2 separate regions of the Homo sapiens genome follow, and region 1 is linked to region 2. Evidence: fine-mapped expression QTL. A gene starts in region 2. The other region holds a variant in brackets. All regions are shown on one strand. Distances are between the middles of the regions.

Region 1 (11,752 bases), 170 kb before region 2:
AGCACTTACATTGTGGCTGTCTGAAATGAGATGTGTTCTAAGAGTGAATTATGCCCTGGACTTCCAAGACGTGTTTTGAAAAAATATGCATAATATCTCATCAGTAATTTTTATATCAATGGCATATTTAAATGTTCATTTTGGATATACTGAGTTAAATAAAATATACCATTAAATTTAATTTCAGTCTCTTTTTTATTTTTCTCTTTTTTAATGTGGTTACTAGGAAATCTTAAATTACAAATGTGGCTTGCATTGAATTTCTGTTAGCAGCAATGTCTGAGAACTGTTTTTCTCATCTGTTAAATGATGTTAACAATGAGAACACCCATAAAGTTCCCAAGACAGTAAGTGTCCTATACATGTTTATGTTCTTCCCCCATCACTTTTTCTCAGCAGAACACTCAAGCCTCCTGACTTTCATTTCATGATCCAGATACATTCAAAACCATTGTTCCATTTCCATCCAGATTTCTCCTGAGTAAGGGCTTTTTTTTTTCAGTCATGTGTCACTTGAAATCTTATGATTACAGTTTGTAAATAGCAAGTCAGAAGTTGGAAACTCAGCCAAGATTCTGAAACTGCCTTGCCTAAAGCAGAGGCATCAGAGAATGCACCTATTCATAAACCCGTCCCAGGCGCTTGTGAAAAGATACACTGACATTTAGGCAGGAAATGCACACAAGGTAATTCATTCCTATTGAAGCTCACTGAGCATCAATCTGGTTGCGATATGAATTATTCATGTCCCCCCCCACCCCGCCGCCGCTGCCACGCCAGCCTCATGTTCAAGGCTGATGTCAGTGCAGGACCCATAGCTCCTCTCTCTAGGCCCTTTCCCGGGCAGCTGTGCACAGATCAACACCCCGTCCTAGAGCCAGCTCTCATTCTCTCTGTGGTGAGGGCTCACCTACACGGACCCAGAGGCTGCGATCGACACCTGATGGGCCACTACAATTCAATTTTCTTGTCCATCTGCTAGAAGACAGATGAATTCATCCAACAGCCAGCCCAGGACTCCAGAGGAAACAACTTGAGATAATTTATGAATTGATTTATGCCACTTCTCTTTCCACAAAGAATGTATGGTGGCTGCATAATATGCCTTTTGTTGAACTTACCAAATCGTTCTCTCATTTCATGTTGTGGACGTCCTAGTAGGGAGTGATAAATGCATATGCTATAAGGCCCAAACAGTTATGCTGATGGGGAGCAAGGAGCAAGCGACAGGGAGTGGTGGAGACTGTGTCCAACGGAAGAGCACCTGACCCACCTGCAGGGGCAGCCGCTGCCCATCCAAGCTGGTCGTTGCCTGTGATGATGCTCTTGGTGTTGCAAATCCTCTGATTTGTTACAAAAGGTCAGATTCCCAGATTTTAATTTGGAGATCTCCTAATTTTTGAAGTGTGGGGCTGAATAAACCTGCCTATTGGTCCAATTCAGCCAGCCAGTTGATAGTCCCTGATCTTGTTTGTTTGCTTGTATAAATGGCAGGCTTTCATGCCAAGGATTCTAACTTCATGTTCTTTTTTATTCCCTCTACCCTTCATCCCTCCTTCCACAGTACATAGCATTTATACCAATTATGATTTTCAGAATTAGACACCAATTTACCATCCTCATAGTTGCTCCGGATGCATCTTTTTTGTTATTTCCTTTTGTGTCCTCCTCCTTTTTTCTCGAAGTTCTCCAGACTCTGAGAGAGGAGGGGAAGCGAGAACAGGAGTCGATAATGGCCCTTTTCCAGCCACACACCCTCATCTGTAAGAAAATGTGGCTGAGTCTCCCTCTCCACGCTTTATCTTCTGTGTTGCCGAAGCATTGCCAGAATGTCAGGGCTCAGGAGAAAAGAGGGGAAGGATGCCAGATGAGGGTCTGGAAGGTCTCTCCTTTGTTGTAAGGCAGCAGTGGAGCAGTTAAAGGCATGAGGGACCTGCCTCCATACATCCTCTGCCAGGCGTGACTGAACTCCCACCCGCCTCCCCATGTGCCTCCCAACGGTGGGACACTTTCTTTTCTGGGGCTTGCCACTGCCTCCTAATGATCTCCCCCATTCAACTAGATACTTTGTCTTTGATGACAAGCCCTGGGGTCCCAAAGAAACCTGGGCTATATGCACAAGTAACCAGAATCCGCGAGTCAAATTCAGTTTCAGTAATTGGCTATTTGAGTCTAAGGGGTAGTTTGTTTAGTTCTTTGTTTTTTCTTTTTCGTTTCCTATAGTATTGATAAAGACACAGATTAGGCCAGGTGTGGCAACTCACACCAGTAATCCCAGGGCTTTGGGAGGCTGAGGCAGGAGGATCGCTTGAGCCCCAGAGTTTGAGGTCAGCCTGGGCAACTAACAAGAGACCCAGCTCTACAAAAACTTTAAAAATTAGCCAGGTGGTGTGGTGAGTACATATGGCCCCAGCCACATGAGAGGCTGAGGCCAGAGGATCATCTGAGGCCAGAAGTTCAAGGCTGCAGTGAGCCCGGATGGCACCACTGCACTCCAACCTGGGCAGCAGAGTGAGACGCTAGTCTCAAAAAAAAAAAAAAAAAAAAAAAAAGATGCAAATTGACCTATGTGACAGGAAGCAGGTCCAGACGACTGTTTTTCAATTGACAAATAGAAATTATATATATTTATGATGTACTACGTGTTTTATATATGTTTACATTGTGAAATGACTAAATCACACTAATTAACATATGCAATCTACTCTCAGCACATTTCAAGCATACAATACATTGTTATTAACTATAGACACCGTGCTGTATAATAGACCTCTTGAACTTCTGCCTAACTGAAAATTGGTATTCTCTGGCCATTAAAGGCATTCCCCATCACCTCTGCCCTGACTCCCTGTTAACCACCATTCCACTTTGCTGTTATGAGTTTGAGGTTTTTAGGTTTCTCTTATGAATGAAATAATGTGGTATTTCCCTTTCTGTGCCTAGCTTATTTCACTTAGCAAAATGTCCACAGCTTCATCCACGTTGTTGTAAATAACAGGATTCCCTTGTTTTCTAAGGCTGAATAGCATTTCATTGCATTTATATACCACATTTTAAAAATCCATTTATCCATTGATACACACATAGGTTGATTTTATATCTTGGCTATTGTGCATAATGCTGCAGTGAACATGTAAGTGCAGATAACTCTTTGCCATGCTGATTTCTTTTCAGAAATCAATCAAAAAGAAAATTTTGAAACAGGATCTTATTCTGTTATCCAGGCTGGAGTGCGGTGGCATGCTTAGGGCTCACTGCAGCCTCGACCTCCCAAGTTCAGGCAATCCTCCTGCCTCAGCCTTCTGAGTAGCTGAGACCACAGGTGTGCACCACCAAACTCAGCTAATTTTTAAATTGTTAGTAGAAATGAGGTCTCCCTATGTTGCTCACCATGTTGGTCAGGCTGGTCTCAAATTCTTGACCTCAGGTGATCCACCTGCCTGAGCAACATAGGGAGACCCCTGGACTTGAACCCCTGAACTCAAATGATCCTCCTACCTCAGTTTCCCAAAGTGCTAGGATGACAGGTCTGAGCCAGCACCCCCAATCGATATACTGATTTCATTTCCTTTGGATGTGTATGGTAGTTCAATTTTTAATTTTTTGAGGAAGCTCCATACTGTTTTCCATGATAGTTATACTAATTTCCATTCCTACCAACTGTGTAGCAATGTCCCTTCTCTCCACATTTCCTTATTGGTGCTCAGAAGTCAAAATTTGAGGAACTACAGTATTAGTATAAAAAATGTTAAAGCACTTTTATGGGAATTGAAAGAAGACAGCTGCAATTTCAGGAAACTGATTAAGAAACACTTGGTCATGCAACATTTGCTCCACATTTTCAAGAATGTGTTAATCAGTTCTCCGCTTTTTAAAGAATGTGATGGGCCAGGTGTGGTGGCTCATGCCTGTAATCCCAGCAGTTCGGGAGGCCGAGGCAGGTGGATCACCTGAGGTCAAGAATTTGAGACCGGCCTGACCAACATGGTGAAACCTGGTCTCTACCAAAAATACAAAATTAGCCGGGCATGGTGGCGCATGCCTATAATCCCAGCTACTCGGGAGGCTGAGGCAGGAGACTTGCTTGAGTCTGGGAAGCGGAGGTTGCAGTGAGCCAAGATTGCGCCACTGCACTCCAGCCTGGGCAACAACAGCAAAACTCCATCTCAAAAAAAAAAAATGGGATGGGATGGGTGCAGTGGCTCATGCCTGTAATTCCAAAACTTTGAGAGGCCAAGGCAGGCAGATCCCTTGAGCTCAGGAGGTTGAGACCAGCCTGGGCAACATGGTGAAACTCTGTCTCTACAAAAAATACAAAAATTAGCCAGGCAAGATGGTACACACCTGTGGTCCCAGCTACTTGGGGGGCTGAAGCAGGAGGATTGCTTGAGCCCAGGGGGTTGAGGCTGCAGTGAGCCAAGTTGGCACCACTATACTATAGTCTGCATATCAAAGTGAAATCCTGTCTCAAAAAAAAAAAGAATGTGACAAATATAATGTAGCCTTTTATTGATGACTCGGGTCAATTACTTATGATCGGAAATTCTATTTCAGCCTGTAATCCCAGCACTTTGGGAGGCCAAAGCAGGCGGATCACTTGAGGTCAGGAATTCGAGACCAGCCCTGCCAACATGGTGAAACCCCGTCACCACTAAGAATACAAAAATTAGCTGGGCATGGTGGTGCACGCCTGTAATCCCAGCCACTCAAGAGACCGAGGCAGGAGAATCGCTTGAATGCGGGAGGTCGAGCCTGCAGTGAGCCAAGATTGCACCACTGCACTCCAGCCTGGGTGACAGAGTGAAGCACCATCTCAAAAAAAAAAAAAAAAAAATTGTATTTCAATTCAATAAGAATTTACTGAGCCTCTCTACTTTGTGCCAAGCACTACACATTGACCTTTAACCATTTTTAAATTTACTTTAAAACTAGGCCTTGAAAACATTGTGCTAAGTGAAAGACATCAGTCCCAAAGGACCATACATTTGTATCATTCCATTTATATGAAATGTCCAGAATAGGCAAGTCTGCAAAGACAGAAAGTAGATTAGTGGCTGCCTGGGGCTGGGGGTACTGGGGCACAGTGGCTAGTGTGGGGTAATGATGGTGTTCTAATGACATCTGGGGCAATGATAATGCACTGCTGATTGTAGTGGTGGATACACAACCATGAATATATTAAAAAACGACTCCGTGGTACACTGTAAATGGGTGAATCGTACGGTGTGTGAAATACATCACAATAAAGCCCGTTTTTAAACAAAGTTGTTGGCAATGTTCGGAAAACAGAAAGAGACAGCACCTGAACAAGGATGAGGAAGGGAGGACAGTGGGTGGGCCTGGCTCAAAATGATGATCAGTCCCTCTTTGTCTCCATAGGATCCTTTGCCCCTCCTGGACTAGCTTGGGACACTCTGCTACTCCACCGTCTGCTCTCCTTCCTGTCCCCATGCCTGCCTGTGACAGCTTCTATGGTATCAGCTGCTCCCCATCAGCTCTGGTTCTGGAAACCACAGAGGTTCAAGGCTGGGCTTGGGAGTCGGAAATCCCCTGGTTTTATGACAGGGGTGTGACCTGCACCAGCAATGTGACCTTGGACAAGTTTCTTCAACCTTTTTTTTTTTTTTTTGGAGACGAAGTTTTGCTCTTGTTGCCCAGGCTGAAGTGCAATGGTGCAACCTTGGCTCACTGCAACCTCCGCCTCCCAGGTTCAAGCAATTCTCCCGCCTCAGCCTCCCGAGTAGCTGGGATTACAGGCTCCCAGCACCACGCATGGCTAATTTTTTTGTATTTTTAGTAGAGACGGGGTTTCACCGTGTTGGCCAGGCTGGTCTCGAATTCCTGACCTCAGGTGATCCACTCACCTCGGCCTCCCAAAGTGTTGGAGTTTTTTTTAACCTTTTTACGCTCAACTTTTCTCATCTATAAAACAGGGATGATGATATCTACCTCATGGTGTTATGGTGAGGATTAAAGGAGATAAAGCTCAGAACGTGTCTGACTCATAGTAAGTGATCAAAAGGACTTTGTATCTGGGAAGGGGAAATCAGCAGGCTGTCAGAGAAAGTTTCACTACAGATAAAGCTGGAATCCTCAGAGCATGACCCTGGAGGTAGTTATTCTGGTTACTCAACTCGGTTAGATGTTGAGGATGTTGGTATCAATGAATGTTCCTGCCAGATGAGATGTTAACTGAATCACCAGTGTTCCTTAAAATAGTAGAAGGGGCAGGCTGGGCGCGATAGTTTATGCCTATAATCCCAGCACTTTGGGAGGCTGAGGCAGGTGGATCACAAAGTCAGGAGCTTGAGACCAGCCTGGCCAACATGGTGAAACCTCGTCTCTACCAAAAATACAAAAATTAGCCAGATGTGGTGGCTGGCGCCTGTAATCCCAGCTACTCAGGAGGCTGAGGTAGGAGAATTGCTTGCACCCGGGAGGTGGAGGTTGCAGTGAGCTGAGATCAAGCCACTGCACTCCAGCCTGGGCGGCAGAGCAAGACTCTGTCTCGGGAAAAAAAATGGTAGAAGCAGGAAAGGAACAAACACTTGCACCTATATGCCATGTGCTTGTCATTCAGCGTCTCGTTTAATCCCCAAAGTAACAATATGCCATAGGTAGGTATTGGTAGCTCTATGCTACAGATGGGAAGCCAAGGCCCACACAGCTAATCATGACGATAATGCCATTAAACACTCCTACATCGTGCTACAGTCGTGTACTCACTCATTTAATCCTCAGCAAACCCTATGTGGGAGTTGCCATTATTATCCCACTTTGCATATGAGGAAACTGAGGCAC[A/G]GGAGGAATAAGTAACTCGCTGAGGTCACACATATTAAGTCGCAGATCTGAGACACAAACAGAAACAAATCTGACCCCAGAGCCCGTGTCCCCCCCATGGCTATGCTGTCCATGAACACAGCAGAGCATCCTTGTGGTGGCCACATCTAACCGTAAGAGGTGCTGTAAACAGGGCAGTCCGTGAGATGCTGTACACATTAAAAGGAGGGCAGGCTCTGGCTTCAGTCAGGCAGCTAGCTCTTTTGGGGTGACTTGAAGGGCACTAAGCCAGCTTCGCTGGGCTCTTCTAAACCTTCCTATCTGAGAATACATGCTCAGAATACCATTTTTTAGCTTAAGGCTGTTTGCAGTTTGGGGTTTATTAAAATGTCCCTTAGCTGGGCACAGTGGCTCACACCTGTAATCCCAGAACTTTGGGAGGCCAAGGTAGGAAGATCACCTGAGGTCGGGAGTTTGAGACCAGCCTGGCCAACATGGTGAAACCCCGTCTCTACTAAAAAATACAAAAATTAACAGGGTGTGGTGGCGGGCCCCTGTAATCTCAGCTACTCGGGAGGCAGAGGCAGGAGAATTACTTAAAGCCAGGAGGCAGAGGTTGCAGTGAGCTGAGATTGCACCACTGCACTCCAGCCTGGGTGACAGAGGGAGACTCTGTCACAAAACAAAACACAAATAAAATGTCTCTTAACAGCTGTTAGTCACTGCAAGGATGTGGGTGGCTGAATTTCCAATCTTACCCTGGCTTTTTTTCCCCCTCACACAGTTTTGGTAGCAGAGAAGAGAGGAAGATCTTGAAGGTCCTGATGAGGCCAGGTGAATTCTAAGAACCTTGGGCCTCATCTCCCTCCCACTCTGCCCTCACAAGGCTGGCTCAGTCTTGATAGCTGATGTGTAGAGTGTGTGGGAGAAGGTCGGGCTGGGACTCACTCTGGTCAGATCCATCTGTCTTCTCATCTCCAAGGCTGCTGTGATGGGAACAGCAGGAATCTCTTCGCCGCTGTGTCTACCCCAGTGTGGTTATTCAATGTTGGTGGCCTCTAAATGCTAGAAAAAGGACATTTTCTTCCTTGCAGACATCCTGGGATAAAGGAAGACAGTGGTTCCTAAGGGCATCAGACACGGTGGGAGGGAAGGGTGCAGATGGCATGTTAGTTTGTGTTGGCTGCCAAAGCAAATACCACAGACCACATGACTTAAAACAGAAATTTATTTTCTCACAGTTCTGGAGGCTGGAAGTCCGAGTTCAAAGAGTCAGCAGGACTGGTTTCCTCTGAGGCCTCTCGCCCTGGCCTGTAGCTGCTATCCTCTCCCTGCATCTCCACGTGGTCATCCCTCTGTGTGTGTCTGTGTCCAAATTTTTTTCCTATAAGGAGAGCAGTCATATTGAAGTAAGGACCAGTCCATTTTAATTTAGTCACCTTTAAAGGCCCTATTTCCAAATGCAGTCACATTGTGGATGTCTGGAGGTTAGGGTTTCAACATTTGAATCTTGGAGGGACAGAATTCAGCCCGTAACAGATGGTGAGGGGGACAAGCTCCTTCTGCCACTTGCAGAGAATATCAAGATCACATGCACCTGCCAGAAATTCCCCGGGAGAAGGGTTCATCCTTCCACCCCGGAGGATTTCCAGGCCCCGGGTGCCCTGCAGGGCAGAGGCACAGCCGTGGGCTCACTGCTGGCCACTCCAAGATGCCTGGGTGCCTGGGCCAGGTTCAGGTTTATTTGAACAGGAGACCCGGAAGGGAGCAGAGGCTCTTTCTCTGCTCTGCAGTTATGAAACATACTTAGGGGAAAATCAAACTCCATGCTAATTTAATAGTTATTAATAATTGATAACACCCATTCCTCGAGGATTGTTTGCACAGTGCTTGGAGGCCTGAGAATTGGTGATAATGAAATTTTAGCATAAGATAAAATTGGGTTAAGGGTTTTTCTGCCTCTGTTTAAAATGTTCCTGTATAAAATATTCATTTTAGGTTATAAACTAATAAACAAATATGTCCCCCATATGCTCCCATGTGTGAAAATCTAACGTGATAATGAAAGTAAAAATAGTAATAAACAAATGATAGGAAAATGATCATTTGCTACACAATGAATAAATTATTAGAGTAATAGATTAACATGAAGAACAGGTACAGGGTGGGAAGGGGAAGGGCTTGGCATCTACGGCCCGCTCTGTGGTTTGTGTGGACATGTGACTCGGTGCCAGCAGCTCTTTCCTTTGTCCTTCCAGCAGGTGTTATTAAGCAGGGATGACTTGACAGTTGCCGGGCTGGTCTCACCAGAACCAGGCAGATGCGCTTCGCCCGCGTTCCTGACTCCCCCTCCTTCCCGTCTCTTCTCTTTTCAAATGACGCCATTTATGCAAGAGGGGGCAAAAGGTGAAATGCAAACCCTTTGAGTTAGCCCTGATAAAATCTCCTCATTTCAAATCCTGCTGGCAAAGCCGCCTGCAGCCTCCCTCCGCGCCCCTCTGGTCGCTTGTTCTTCTACCCAATCCCTAGGGATCATGCCCATCAGGGTTCATCCTAGAGCTCCTGCTCTTCTCTACAGCACATTCTCATAGCCTTGGAAAATGCCTCTACTGACAACTCCCAACTTATATTCCACGCCAAGACCTTCCTCGGAGCCCCAGCCTCACACATGCCCACGCCCCTGCCCCCCGCCCCCCCCCCCCACCCCCGCCCCGAGGTCTTCTTGACATCTCTGCTTGGTGACGTGCAGGCTTCTCAATCTCCCTGCTCCTCCCTCCGCCTCAGTAAATGCTGGCCCAGGCTGCTCGCTTGCTCAAGACACAACCCCAAGAGGCGTCCTTGATGCTTCCTTTTCCCTCACTCCCCATATCCAACCCATCCATGAGTTCTTTCGGTTCCACCTTAAAAATACCCCTAGGGGCCGGGCGCGGTGGCTCACGCCTGTCATCCCAGCACTCTGGGAGGCCGAGGTGGGCGGATCATGAGGTCAGGAGATCGAGACCATCCTGGCTAACACGGTGAAACCCCATCTCTACCAAACACACACACACACACACACACACACACACACACACACACACACACGAAATTAGCCGGGCGTGGTGGTGGGCGCCTGTAGTCCCAGCTACTCAGGAGGCTGAGGCAGGAGAATGATGTGAACCTGGGAGGCGGAGCTTGCAGTGAGCCAGGATCGCGCCACCGCACTCCAGCCTGGGTGACAGAGCAAGACTCCGTCTCAAAAAAAAAAAAAAAAAAATACCCCTGGGGTCTGCCCACTTCCGTCCATCTTCCCGGTCATCACATGGGTCCTGTCACTGTCACCTCTGGCTGAGATTTGTGCAGTAGCCTCCCAGTGGATCTCCCACTGTCACTTTGCCTGCCCAACCAGCAGATAGAGTGATTTAGAAAGAATAAGTAGATCATGTAACGCCACTCCCAACCCCAGTCTGCACAAAGCTTTTCAGTGAGTTCCTGTCGCACTTAGAATAACACCCACGCTTCTTACTGCACAGAGACCCCGACTGAGCCGCCCCACCTGTCTGTGCAGCCCTGTCTTGACCTGTTCTTCCCTCTCCTATGACATTTCTGGCTGGATTGATCTCTAACGATCCCCTAGGACTTTATTTAATACTCTAAGTGAGATCTGGATCAGGCACCTCAGCATTACCTGGAGCTTGTTAGAAATCTCAAGCCCTCTCCAGACCTACTGAATCAGGAATCAGGATTTCAGCAAGATCCCTGGGTGATTCAAATGCAAATTAAGGCTTGAGAAGCTCTGCTGCAGCTCAGAGCACAGCAGGCCCTTTCCACCCCAGGGCCTTTGCACATGCTCCTCTTTCCCCGGTTCCTCATACAGCTTGCTCCTAGGATACCTCTGGAAATGGATGTGATGAACCATGGCTGCTTCTGGGGAGAGAAACAGGGAAGCTGGCATTGGGGATGGGAGGGAGAATTACCTTTTATTGTGTACTCTCATTCATCTTCAAACAAACAAGCCATTTTAACAGCTGTTTTTCAGCCTTCAGTTCTATTTACAGCCACTATGAAAAGTAACCTCCCTTCCTTCCTTGGTGTCACAGTGTCCTTTGTTTCCTCCATGGTGTTCATCGTAATTTGGTGATCGTGATGTTTCTTCGCTGATGTCTCACTTCTGCCATCAGCATGCAGGAAGTGAAGATGTTGTCTTGTTCACCCCCCTGCATCCACCAGCTTTAGATCCATGCTGCACACAGGAAGCTCTGAAATGCTGACAAAATGAGCTTCTCTGAAATCTTACATTCAGATGCTCCTCCCTGCCCCTTCCGTCCCTCCATGCAGTGCACCTACTAATTTGCTCCCACGACTCCTGTTTCATACCCGCGAGGGGCTCGTGTCCTGATGGCTCTGCTCTTATCTTCCAGCCTCCTTGGTTTGCATCTGTTCTGTGCTGCTTTCTTCTCTGGCTTCCACACACAGAGCAGTTGGCCTCACCTCAGTGTAACTGAGAGAAATGAAAGTCATCAGAGGCAACGCGCTCACTTCCCTGCCACAAAGCCCGCAAACCTGTCCACGTTTGCTGCTGTCTTTTTCTCCCTTCCATTTGCTAACGTGCCACTGCTCTCTTACTGAAAGTGCTCTGATCTCACTCCTCCAGTGGTGCTGGTAAACGTTTCACAACTGACTCTCTGGGAATAAAAAGGTCTGATTTGAGGAATTTGCTGGTTTCTGTGGTGTAAATACTCCCATCACAGCCAATTTCAAGCCACCAGTGAGATAACACGACACGCAGAGTTGGAAGAGATGCATAGACGTGAGTAATCACTCACATATAGCATTCTCACCACAGGGACACAATGGATGGACATTATCTCAGGGGAATAGCTATTGGTAGAAGGTAACAAACTAGGAAGAGATGAGTTTTCAGTATTTATTGCTTTGTCTCTATGTAACCTATTTAACTGTAAGTTTTCATCATTTAATTTTTAACACTGGC
Region 2 (11,752 bases):
AGAGCAAGACAGGACACACGGATGCTTTCCAGCTACCACATCTCCGTCCCCACCCTCTGTACCGTGTCCCCTACCCCATCCCCATCCCCACCCTCTGTACCGTGTCCCCTACCCCATCCCCGTCCCCACCCTCTGTACCGTGTCCCCTACCCCATCCCCGTCCCCACCCTCTGTACCGTGTCCCCTACCCCATCCCCGTCCCCACCCTCTGTACCGTGTCCCCTACCCCATCCCCGTCCCCACCCTCTGTCCTGTGTCCCCTACTCCATCCCCATCCCCACCCTCTGTCCTGTGTCCCCTACTGCATCTCTGACCCCACCCTATCCTACCTATATCACCTACCCCATCTCTGTCCCACCCCTGTCCTGTGTCACCTACCCCTCTTCCGTCCCCTCGCTTCTCCCTGTGTGTTCTAAATTGCGTCAAGGTTGTTCCCCACATGACAGCTTCCACCAGCAGCTGTGCTCAGGAGCACTGTGTATGGCAGTTATGCTCATTTTCCTTAAATGCCATCAGATCTCAGTTATGGAAGGACCCTTTATTGCTTTAGGGAACATTATTAGTAGGGGTCCTAACTGGTAGTTATAACAAATGCCCTTTAACCGTCTTACAAGAAAGACAATAAGAGAGTAATACCTATAAATAATTTATGGAGCATTTTCTATGTTTGTCATACAGCACCTCATGTAATGCTCATGTATGTGTGTGTGTGTGTGTGTGTGTCTACCACCCCCCCACCCCATCTAAGGGGTGACTGAGGTTGCAGGACTTCTAAGTGGCACAGCAGAAACCAGAGCCTGGGCTGGGCATGGTGGCTTACGCCTGTAATCCCAGCACTTCGGGAGGCCATGGTGGGTGGATCACTTGAGGTCAGGAGATCGAGACCAGCCTGGCTAACATGGAGAAACCTCGTCTCTACTAAAAATACAAAAATTTGCCAGGTGTGGTGACAGGCACCTGTAATCCCAGCTACTCAGGAGGCTGAGGCAAGAGAATCCCTTGAACCCAGGAGGCAGAGGTTGCAGTGAGCAGAGATCGCGCCACTGCACTCCAGCCTGGGCGACAGAGCAAGACTCCATCTCAAAAAAAAAAAAAAAAAAAAAGACACTAGAGCCTGACTCCCCTGACCTTGACTGGACCAACTGCTTTAAAAAGAAGGCAACCTCTCTGACATTTTCTCCTCCCACATATGGGGCAGTGTTTCCGAGAGTAGTTTCTTGGAAACTGCACACCCCGCAGCTAATGGTTCTGGTGCTTCCCACAGACATGAGAATTTGAGGGCAGAAACCATGGAGAGACTGGTGTATGGACCTCAGAGGTTAAGGCAAATATTTCTGGAAGTTCTTCAGCTACACACAGTTAAAAACCAGCCCCACACACCACAGCCAGGAGAAGGCCTGAGCAAATAAATACCTTTCCATCTGCACTTTTCAAAACGAACTTCCATAATTTCCTTTCACAGATACCCAGATCATAAGAAAAATGTCTGAGAATCCTTCCTACCAGCAGTCTCCTCCAGAATGGTATCTGAGCCTGTGAAAAGCTGGTGGCTGACGCTGCTCAGGAGGTGCCCTGTTACATCACATGCCTGTCTTATCATTTCCCATCATTTCACTGCTAAATTCACTGGGCACCGACAGAAACAGCATCTCTAGTTCATTATCCACTTGGCTCAGGATTATGGGTTAGACCCCCTTAAAAGCAATACAAATATCTTCAAGGTAATTTGTCAAAATCATAAATGTGTCTTAAGGACTCTTAATCTGACCTAAAGTTTTGAAGTTATTTTCCAGACACAGAGATCTAGAAAGAGCATTATTTGATGAGAATTCTCCTGATTTCCGTTCAGTTTGGGGAAAACAGAAGGATTTTGAACGCTGGCTGTCTGTGTTGTCCTACCCACAGGTGACACCAGCAGTACCGGTGTTTGCAGGTATCTAGACAACAGAAGAGATCGGCGGGACACCAGCCAGCATCAAGCCACAGGTGGGCCTGTGAACACCAGGCCGGGCCGGCCTGTCTCCCTTTCAAAGGCAGTTCTCTTGCATCTCACATCCATGTGGCCAAGTTGTTACTTTAAGTTCCACCTCCTCCAAGAAGCTTCCCCTGATTACCTCCCCTTCCAAATCCAGTGTGAACTGAGTGTGAACTAAATCCAGGGCTCAGGCTTGCAGGTACAGGCTTGACAAGGGCTCATCTTATTCACCAGAAGCAGCAATTATGACTCGGACCTTTCCGGCTTGTAGTGAGTGCCAAGCACACAGGGGGTTGCTCTGATGATGAGGCAGCAACAGCATAAATAGGAACGGTGGTTTGGAAGACGCCCATCCCCATGACAGTGGGCCGGGCTGTGTACGCAGAAAGCCATTCAATCCCCGCAACGCCGCTGCCAGCTACTCCTTCCTTGCCTTCTCCCAGCCCTGACTGAAGTCTCCAGCAGCCCCGACGGCTCTCCCAGTCTTTTTCAGGTAATAAAAAGGCCTAGCACACTTTACCCAAGACAGTGGTGAATACAGAGATATTTTAAACTTCCTTTTATGTATCAAGGGCAAAGCCTGGAAGCTGGAGCCTAGAGCTCTCCCCAAAGCCATGATGTGCAGAGGACAGAAGACAGAACCTAAGAAACAGCCCTGCCCCACAGGTAGAAAAATGCCTTCTGGGTCTGGGACATGAACCCAGGCACTGAGCACCTACCGCTGTGCACCCCACCTGGAGGAGCAGGGGTGGGGCTGAGGGGGCGTTCTTGTCCTGCTTCCTGTGGGAACTCAGGGAAGGCCGAGCTCAGAACAGTAGAAATGGAGGCCTAGTACGGTTCCGCACAACCTGGGCGGGCTCCCAGGTGCCCAATAGGGGCCCAGAAGAGACCTCAGAGCATGGGGACCTCTGGGCCAATGGAAGAGCCAGGTCCCCGCTGTGGCTCACCCTGGGGACACCAGCTGGACAATGATGGAAATGTGAGCCGGAGGCTCCATGTGGAGGGGAAAGGGACTCACTGGGGCACCGCAAGAGGACCAGATGACCAGTCAGGGCCACTCCCCTCAAGCTCTGATGGGACTACAACCCTCTCCTGGTGCCCAGGGGTGACTTGTAGCGAAAAGGGGTCCCCGAGGAGTAACGTGGAAAGACTGAGAGACTGACTCCCACCAGGGACGAAGCTACCTTTAAGCTAAATAGTGACTGAAATAATACCATTGAATTAGGCTCTAGAAAAACAGAACCATGCACTGGGAACTGAGTATATGAAAAAGGGAACCAAGGGACTTCACTAGGGACAGCAAAATCAAGCTCACTTACACAAAATTTTGCACCTTTCCACAATAAACCCTGGGCAGGTTTCCACCCAGAGAGTCCACCTGCAACACAAGCAGTATTTATGTGCACAACAAGCAACTGCATGACAAGGCACGGAGCCAGCCTGCAGGGGAAGAGCCAGTGACTGCAAGGTAGCTAAGTCAAATCCAGGCCCACCAGGACATCACAGAAAACCCACCCTCCTGGAGGCCTGGTACCTTCACATCTATTCTCTCATTTAACCAAGAGCATCCCTGAGGGCTGGCCAGCTGAGTCCATTTCAGCTGCTATAACAAAATACCATAAACCGGGCAGCTCATAGACAACAGACATTTATTCCTTGCAGTTCCAGAGGCTGGAAGTCCAAGATCAAGGCACTGGCAGGTTGGGTGTCTGGTGGGGGCCCATTCCTCATAGAAGGCGCCTCCTCACAGTGTCCTCACATGGTGGAAGGGACGAGCGAGCTCCTTGCGCTTCTTTTATAAGGGCACCAAGCCCATTCATGACCTATCACTTCCCAAAGGCCTCATCTCTTAATACCATCACCTTGAGGATTAGGAATCCACATATGAATTTTTGGGGGGACACAAACATTCAAACCATAGCACTATCACTGCTCTCATTTCCCTGAATGGTGCACTGAGATTGGTCAAGATTCATCCTTTTTTTTTTTTTTTTTTTTTGAGACTGAGCCTCACTCTGCTGCCCAGGCTGGAGTGCAGTGGTGCCATCTCAGCTCACTGCAACCTCTACGTCCCTGGTTCAAGCAATTCCCCTGCCTCGGCCTCCCGAGTAGCTGGATTACAGGCGCCACACCTGGCTATTTTTGTTTTGTATTTTTAGTAGAGTCAGGGCTTCACCACGTTGGCCAGACTGGTCACGAACTCCTGACCTCAGGCAATCCACCTGCCTCGGCCTCCCAAAGTGCTGGGATTACAAGTGTGAGCCATCGCGCCCAGCCAAGATTCATCTTAACTAGCCTAAGAGGGCCAAGCAGAGCAGTGATCTCAGCAGGACAGCCACCCGTTAGTGAGCCCCACATGACGCATCCTATGCAGCAGCTGAGCTGCGCAGCATCCATGGATGGTACACTTTATTTTATAAGTGAGGAAACAGATGCTTAGAGAGTAAGAACTTGACTCGTGGAGGAGGTCCAGAATCAGACTCAGGCAAGCCAGGTACTCACTACAGGCACAAAATTTAAGGGGGTACCAAAAATGCAGTCAGATAAATGCCTTATTACAATATTTTAAAACATCAAAACAAATACAAAAATCCCTAATGTACAAAATCTCACATTTTTAAATAAAGACAGGATCAGTGTTCCTGATTTTTCCTGTTGCCTCAGACTCCAAGATGGCACAGCATAGGGGCAGAGCCCAGAAACCAGCCCAGCTCAACCTTCTCCACCAGCTCCACACGACACTGTCTCTAGATATCTTTCTCCTCACAATTTTATAACCTCAATAGGTTCTTAGGATGACCACAGTGCTCCATCATTCCAGGTGTGCGCCCGTGGGACCGAGCTCCAGGGAAAATACCAGGGGTCTACACAGATTCTAGTCTATGGTATATGCAAATGAAGGAAGCCTGCAGGCTCCAATAACCTAGTAGGATACCTTAAGACCAGTTTGGGAAGGTGTGAGCTGGCTCTAAAAGGGTAACACAGCTGCCTGTCTTCCACTTGGATTTCCTGGCTCAAAACTGTCAACAGGACCTGATGCCTGCAGGCGGTTTGCACCTACACGGAGTCAAATTCACACAGCCGCACTGCTTCTGACTTGCATTTCAAAAGCAAGTGACTATTATGCTCTGATCACATGTGAACTTCATACCGAATCTTTGCCTATGATGAAGCTTCTGTTCAACAAATATTTGTTGATTAAAAATGTGAACACTTCTTAGATCAACTCCAGAATCCCTCCCGGGTGGCGTGTAATCAAAGCCTAAAACCTGTTAAATAAACCATCACCTAAAGCATAAGGCAGTTCGTGAATGTGTCCACTCCTTTCCCCTGCAACTGCGTGTGGAGACAGTGGGCATAAAGACCTCGTATGCTAGCAATTTCAACCGAGCAGGACCTTCTCTCCCTCCTCTTTCATTTTCCTGGCGCGTAAACTGCTGGATTTGCCTCACAGTGGAAAGTTGGGTCCAGCAAAGTGAGCAAAGGGAAACTTTGGGCACTTGCACGAGCGCGTCCGGCTCCCCCTCGGCCGCAGGAGCTGCCCAGGGCTTCGGCGGCGGGGGTGGCGCCTCTCCGGGTCCGAGGGGCCCCTGGCTTCACGGCCTCTGCCCTCGACCCCCTAGCCCCGGCCCGCCCCACCTCCGCCCGGTGCCCCCGCGCCCACCCCGCCTTCGACCCACGCCTGCCTTGGGACACGCGATTTCAAACCCCTCGAGGTACCTGGGACAGGAGCGTGGCCCGGGCTCGGCGAGACGCGCAGAGAAGGGCACCTTCCGCGGGGTGCGGCGAGCCGGGGCTGCTCCCGCCGCGGTGCGCGTCTAGCCCCAGCCCAAAGCCGGGGCGACGCAGCAGGTGGCCGCGCGGCCTCCAGACAGCCCGGGTCTGCGGCCGAAGAGCTGGACGCGGGCGCTGACACTACCCTCCCGCGGCCGGCCCGGCCCTGCGCCCGGCGCGCTCCCAGCTCCCAGCTCCCAGCTGCAGGCGCGCCGGCTTCGCTCGGCTCCGCTCGGCTCGGCGGGGGCGGACGCCGCTCAGCTCCCCTCGCCGGCCGCCGCGCGCACCTCCCCCGCGGCGCACAGCTCCCAACGCCGCCTCCGCAGCTGGCCCGGCGGAGTGGGGCCGAGACCTCGGGGCGGGGGGCGCAGGCGCCGGCCTGGGCCTTGGACGCCCCGCGGGAGGCGGGAGGGCGATCGGGGTGCGGGGAGGGCAATCGGGGTGCGGGCCCGGCTGCCCAGCGCTCCCTCCCAAGCCCGCGCCGCTCCCGACCCGCCTCGGCCTGTCCGCGCAGCGGCGCTGTCGGGGCTCCGGGAGGGCCGGGGGGCACCGGAGACCCGGAGGTGGTGGCAAGTCAGTCCGGGACTGGCCCAGGGCACCCGCGCGCGTCGGTGAGAGGGACCCGGGACTCCAGGTGACCTCCGGATCCGCCCTCTAAGTCAGTGGCCTGCGGCGGGCGTGGGCGCCGAGGGAAGGAAGTGTGCATTTGAATAAAAGTAAAAGTTTGTTATTGTTGTTGTTTTATAACCCTGTGGGTCCTGAGCGTCTCCAGGCTAATTAGGGAAGCTGCCGCCCCGTCTGGAGGTGATTCATGGGTGTGACACCGGCGAGTGTGGGAAGAAAGGCAGCTGATGCCGTCTCAGCTGCGCTCGCCTTTCTTTATTTTCTTTCTTTCTTCTTTTTTTAAAATCCTTTTTCTTGTAAAGACAGGGCTGGTCCATTTAGGGAGACCGCGCACGGAGGGAGCTGCCTTGGGTGGTCGCCCAGCGAATCTCCTCCGGAGCCCGAGCCGCGGCTTTGGTCTGCGGATGGCACAGCCCGGCGACCCCGTCCCGGCCTCTTCCCCGGCGGTGCACGCCCAGGGCCAGGCAGGCGAGAGGCGCGGGAGTCGCGTCCCAGCAGGGAGCCCAGGCTGCGACGAGTCCTCAGGGGACGCCTTCAACCCAGGCTGGAAGAGATGATACTAACGTCAGACGGGGAGTCTCGGGTGTCACCGGACGCCAGAATGAGCGGCGAGGTCCGCATTGTTTGGAGGGGATCACGCGGAATCCGCGCTACTCCGCGGGACGCTGGGTCCGACGGCTAGCGCCGCGCACACTGGAGGCCTGGAAAAGCCGAGCTGCTCGGCTGTCGGAGGCCGAGAGGGCCTGGACCCCGGAAGGAGCTCTCTCCACCTGTGGCTTTCAAGGGGCTCAAAATCCCAGATAGAAGAATCGAGCGAAACGAGGCCCAAGACAGTTTCCCATTTACTTGGGCATATCAAACGAAGTTTCCTTTTTGAATTTTTAATGTTATCCCTTGGCCACAAGCTATTCACGTAAAAGCCTCTTTTGATGGTTAAGTGCTTTAAGTTCCCTGTATAAAAAGAACAAAAATAGTGATTCAGCCTTATAACCCCCCCCCAAATTAATAACCTGCATTCACAATGAATGGGTGACTCATGACAATCAGAGACAACGAGTTTGTTGGGTGTCTGTGTGTTTGTTTTTTTCAAAATCCTCAAACTAAACTGAACAACTGCAAAAACTATACTCCCCTCTCTCCTCTCCCACCTTGAGCCTCTGCTCCTTGCTCTTCAAAATCATGTTAGTTTTTGCCGCTGTAACTACTAAATATTTATGGACTCCATAAACTGCCTTTCTACCTAAGAATTTCGTTTCCAGAATATCTTAAACCTCTGGCTTTATTTGTATTCTGTGGGTGGCTTTTGAAGTTCCTGGAGGTTTTCAGAAGACAAAAACCGAGGTTCCTGGTGATTAGTTAAGGCCGAGAACATGGTGTCAACACTCAAAATAGAAACTGGTGGGGAATTTTGTGAATAGGTTGGGAAAATGGAAAATTATCTGGAGCCTGGTAGAGCAAGCACCTTCATGCTTTAAAAATGTGGAAAGAAACTGTGCCCCTCCCCTACCCCTGGGACTTTCATCTTCCTGTGAGAGCTCTGGTTCCCAGGGCCCTGCCAAGTGGCTGGCAGTCAAGGAGGCTCTTCCCCTCCTTAATGCCTTTTGGATCAAGCCTTGAAGCCAGGTTAAGAAAAGACTAAAATGTTCAAGTAAGGATTTGTCAAAAGTGCAAAAGAAACATAGACCCCACATAGTGTTTCTTGCAGTCTGCATGGACAACCAGAAAGCCAAGAGCATGGGGTTGGTTGTTTTTTGAGGCTCCAGAAAATCTCTCAGCTACCCCTGAACACATCCCTTTCAGAGAAGGAGAACCTCATTGACAAGCCAAAAGAAAGAAGACCATGCTACTTCTAAATATATTGCACCTCACTGGGAACATGCTTTTATCAAATAACCGGGCACGGATCTAAGCCATTTACAAATAGTCACTCATTTAAATTATCCACCTGCCAGCAGACCCTCTGAGCTAAGACCTGCCATTACCCTGATTTTGCAACCGAGATGCTGCTATTATCTCCATGTGGTAGACGAGGAGACTCAGCATGAGAAGGGCAAGTACCATGCCCAAGGGCATGCAGATAGTAAGTGGCAGAGCCAGGGTTTGAACCCCTAATCTGCACTTAAGGCTGGGCAAAGCTGCCTTTCTGAAAATGATGTCTACCTCTGCAAACTGAAAATATTTTTTAGTTTAGAAAAGAAAGGAATATCAACCCTTCCCACACTAAGAGGAAGGCATCTTTTGGGATCTCAGAAAGCAAGAGTATTTACACTTTTGATATTTACACTTTAAAATATTTACATTTGCTTCTTCACTCAGTTATTCCCAACACCATCATCATCATTGCTAATCATCAGTCCTGAATCTTCACTTAGTCAAACCAGAGGCTGGTAATTAATGGGGTGAAGACGGTGAAGTCAAAGGCAGTGTGCTTTCTAACCCAGGATGGTAGCGGGGACAATTTTCAGGACAGTGTTCATCCCAGGGTTCTGCTTTTGGGTCTTCACAGACACTCAATCTGCTTGTCTTCACTTAGGTTCAGAAAATACAGGCCCCATAGGCACAGACATCCCTACCTGGGGAGAGGATTGGAGTCAAGGGCCAGCCAGGAACCAATTAGGAAGAAACAATATCTCAACAGGCCCATTGCCCAGGTGAGCCATGGTGGCAGAGGTCGAATTGAGCTGCCTCACTGCCAGAGGCCACAGGGACCCTACTCCTGAGGGGCTCTCTGCAGGCGGCTGTCCAGCAATACCCAGATCTTAGCCACCATCCCTCTGATCCTTCTCCAGCAATAGGGATTGGACCCTGTCCTTTCCCTGTTTCAAAACCCTTCCCTGGCTTCCCTGCAGTTAGGGTGAAACCCAGACTCCTTAAGAGGACCACATCTCCTGGGCTTCCTTTCAGTACCACCCTCTGCTCCCTCCACTCCAGCCACACTGGCTTTCTTCCAGTTCTGTGAACAACCCAAGCTTCTTCCTGCCCTGAGGGCTTAGCCCCAGCTGCCCCCACCCTTCACCTGGCTGACTCCCACTAATTTTTCAGGACTTAGCTTCAGTGATACTTCCTTTGGTCTTTTTTTCCTGACCTGTATTTCCCTCCTACTCCTCTTCTTTAGAGAACATATTACACTTTGGAGTGATTTATTTTTTATTCCATACTGGAGTCCCTCACCAGAGCACAACCTCCAGGAGGGCAGGGTCTGTATCTGTGTCTAGCACCTAGCACGGTGCTGGTTTACAATAGCTGCTGGATCAATATTTATTAATCAATGAACTTTCACCATGGCCTATTATGACCCTGAAACTGCTGTATCTCAAATGCATGAGACTGCACCCACTCTCTCTTCCCAATTTTTTTCCACCCTAGTCTTGATCCCGTTGTTTCCTAAACTTCTGCTCCTCCCCCATCCAAGGACCTTCTGCTCCAACTGCTCATTTCTCACTAGTCATCTCTCTCCAGCCTCCACCCTGCCTAGCCCTGGGCCTCATGGTCATCCCTTGACTGCTCTCTTACCAGCACCCCCAGTGCCCTCATCCCTTGGTCCCCCCCCACCCCCGCCAACACCTTCCTGGTTGAAACCCCAACCATACACCAGCCTCCTCTCTTCCTACACAAGCCCTTTTGTGCTGCCAAGGAAATTCACAGAACCATGCAGACCTAAACCACAAAAATACAGTCTCCACCCACACTTGGGCCTTACTACTTTGAGCCCATTAATGCCTAGTGTTCCATTATTGGAATGCTAAGCTTGTGGGAGTTATTTACATCCTACTGCTGAAGGTCATGGCCAAGGTCTGATTTTTCACATAAGAAAATTGCAACCTCCAGCATAAATGGGTTAAACATTCTCTGAAAAACAAACAGGATGGTACATAAAATAAGAAAGAAGGAAAGATCACCAATAATTCCAACCGCAGAGGCAATCACTGTTGGCATTTTATTGTTTTTCTTCCAGTTTTTCTTTTTCCAAAAAAGGGATTCAAGCTGGCCTGCAAACTCAAATGGCTTGTACATAGTTGAGATTAAGGCAAATACACAAGATTGTATCCTGTTTTTTTCAGCTACATTATACACAAGTATCTTCCCTTGTGATAATGTAGTTTTTATAAATATAAGTTTTTAATAACTAATATTTCATTATGTGATACATCATGATTTATTATTTTAAACCATTTCTGTATTGTCTTGTTTTCAACTTGGGAGTGTTCTACAAAATTCTTTAACAAGATCTGTATGCGGCAGACTCAGTGGCTCACGCCTGTAATCCCAGCACTTTGGGAGGCTGAGGCAGGCGGATCACCTGAGGTCGGGAGCTTGAGACTAGCCTGGCCAACATAGTGAAACCCCGTCTCTACTAAAAATACAAAAATTAGCCGGGCATGGTGGCACGTGCCTGTAGTCCCAGCTACTTGGGAGGCTGAGGCAGGAGAATCGCTTGAACCCAGGAGGTGGAGGTTGCAGTGAGCCAAGATCGTGCCACTGCACTCCAGCCTGGGTGGCAGAGCGAGACTCCGTATCAAAAAAAAAAAAAAAAAAAGTATCTGTATGCATAATTTGTCTGCATTTATTTTGCCTATATTTAATTTATTTCCTTAGGAGATATTCAGAGAGGAATCCCTGAGCTGATGGCTATGAATGAGCTGAAGGCTCTGAGTCTCAGCGTGGGAAGGCGTCTAAGGTTCTAAGGCCTGAAAAACGCCACATTATTTCCTTTGTTCCTGCACAGCTCACTTTGCCATTGCCCACAGCAAAAGTAGCCCTAACTGCTCTCACATACTGTGTGTTCCCGGTCTGCACCATGTTCTCCTCTGAACAGATGGTTTTGCGTTCTTCTTCGGAGAACGTTAATGATGGGTATGAACTCTCAATGCCCCATATCCACCCCCAGACCAGTAACACTGATCTTTGATCCTAGACATGAGACAGTATCTCCCTGCCGCTTAGATCTTAGGGAAGATTAGCTTGCACCCACTTCCTCCAAGAGCACCACCCACAAAGATGGATCTTTCCAATCTGCAAATATGATCATGACACCCATTGTTCATTTAGTGCCTATAATATATAAGACATAGGGCCAGGCGCAGTGTCTCATGCCTGTAATCCCAGCACTTTGGGAGGCCGAGGCAGGTGGATCACCTGAGGTCAGGAGTTCAAGACCAGCCTGGTCAACATGGTGAAACCCCGTCTCTACTAAACATACAAAAATTAGCCAAGTGTGGTGGTGGGCACCTGTAATCCCAGCTACTCACGAGGCTGAGGCAGGAGAATCACTTGCACCTGGGAGGCAGAGGTTGCAGTGAGCCGAGATAGCGCCATTGCACTCCAGCCTGGGCAATAAGAGTGAAACTTCTTCTCAAAAAAAAAAAATAATAATAAGAT

What was found.
Region 1: its variant is fine-mapped to the expression of CRACDL in whole blood (TOPMed, PIP above 0.99).

The regions. Positions count from the first base shown.
Region 1 is chr2:98,760,883-98,772,634 of GRCh38, forward strand. LINC02611 (long intergenic non-protein coding RNA 2611) reads right to left here and starts at 11,016. Exons shown (of 4, transcript NR_126337.1): 1 at 10,737-11,016; 2 at 8,020-8,164; 3 at 7,729-7,904; 4 at 181-1,696. RefSeq lists enhancers at 9,357-9,857, 9,858-10,358. The variant A/G (reference allele first, on the strand shown) is at 6,802.
Region 2 is chr2:98,930,243-98,941,994 of GRCh38, forward strand. It overlaps CRACDL (CRACD like), which reads right to left and starts at 5,983. Exons shown (of 10, transcript NM_207362.3): 1 at 5,696-5,983. RefSeq lists a silencer at 5,150-5,350.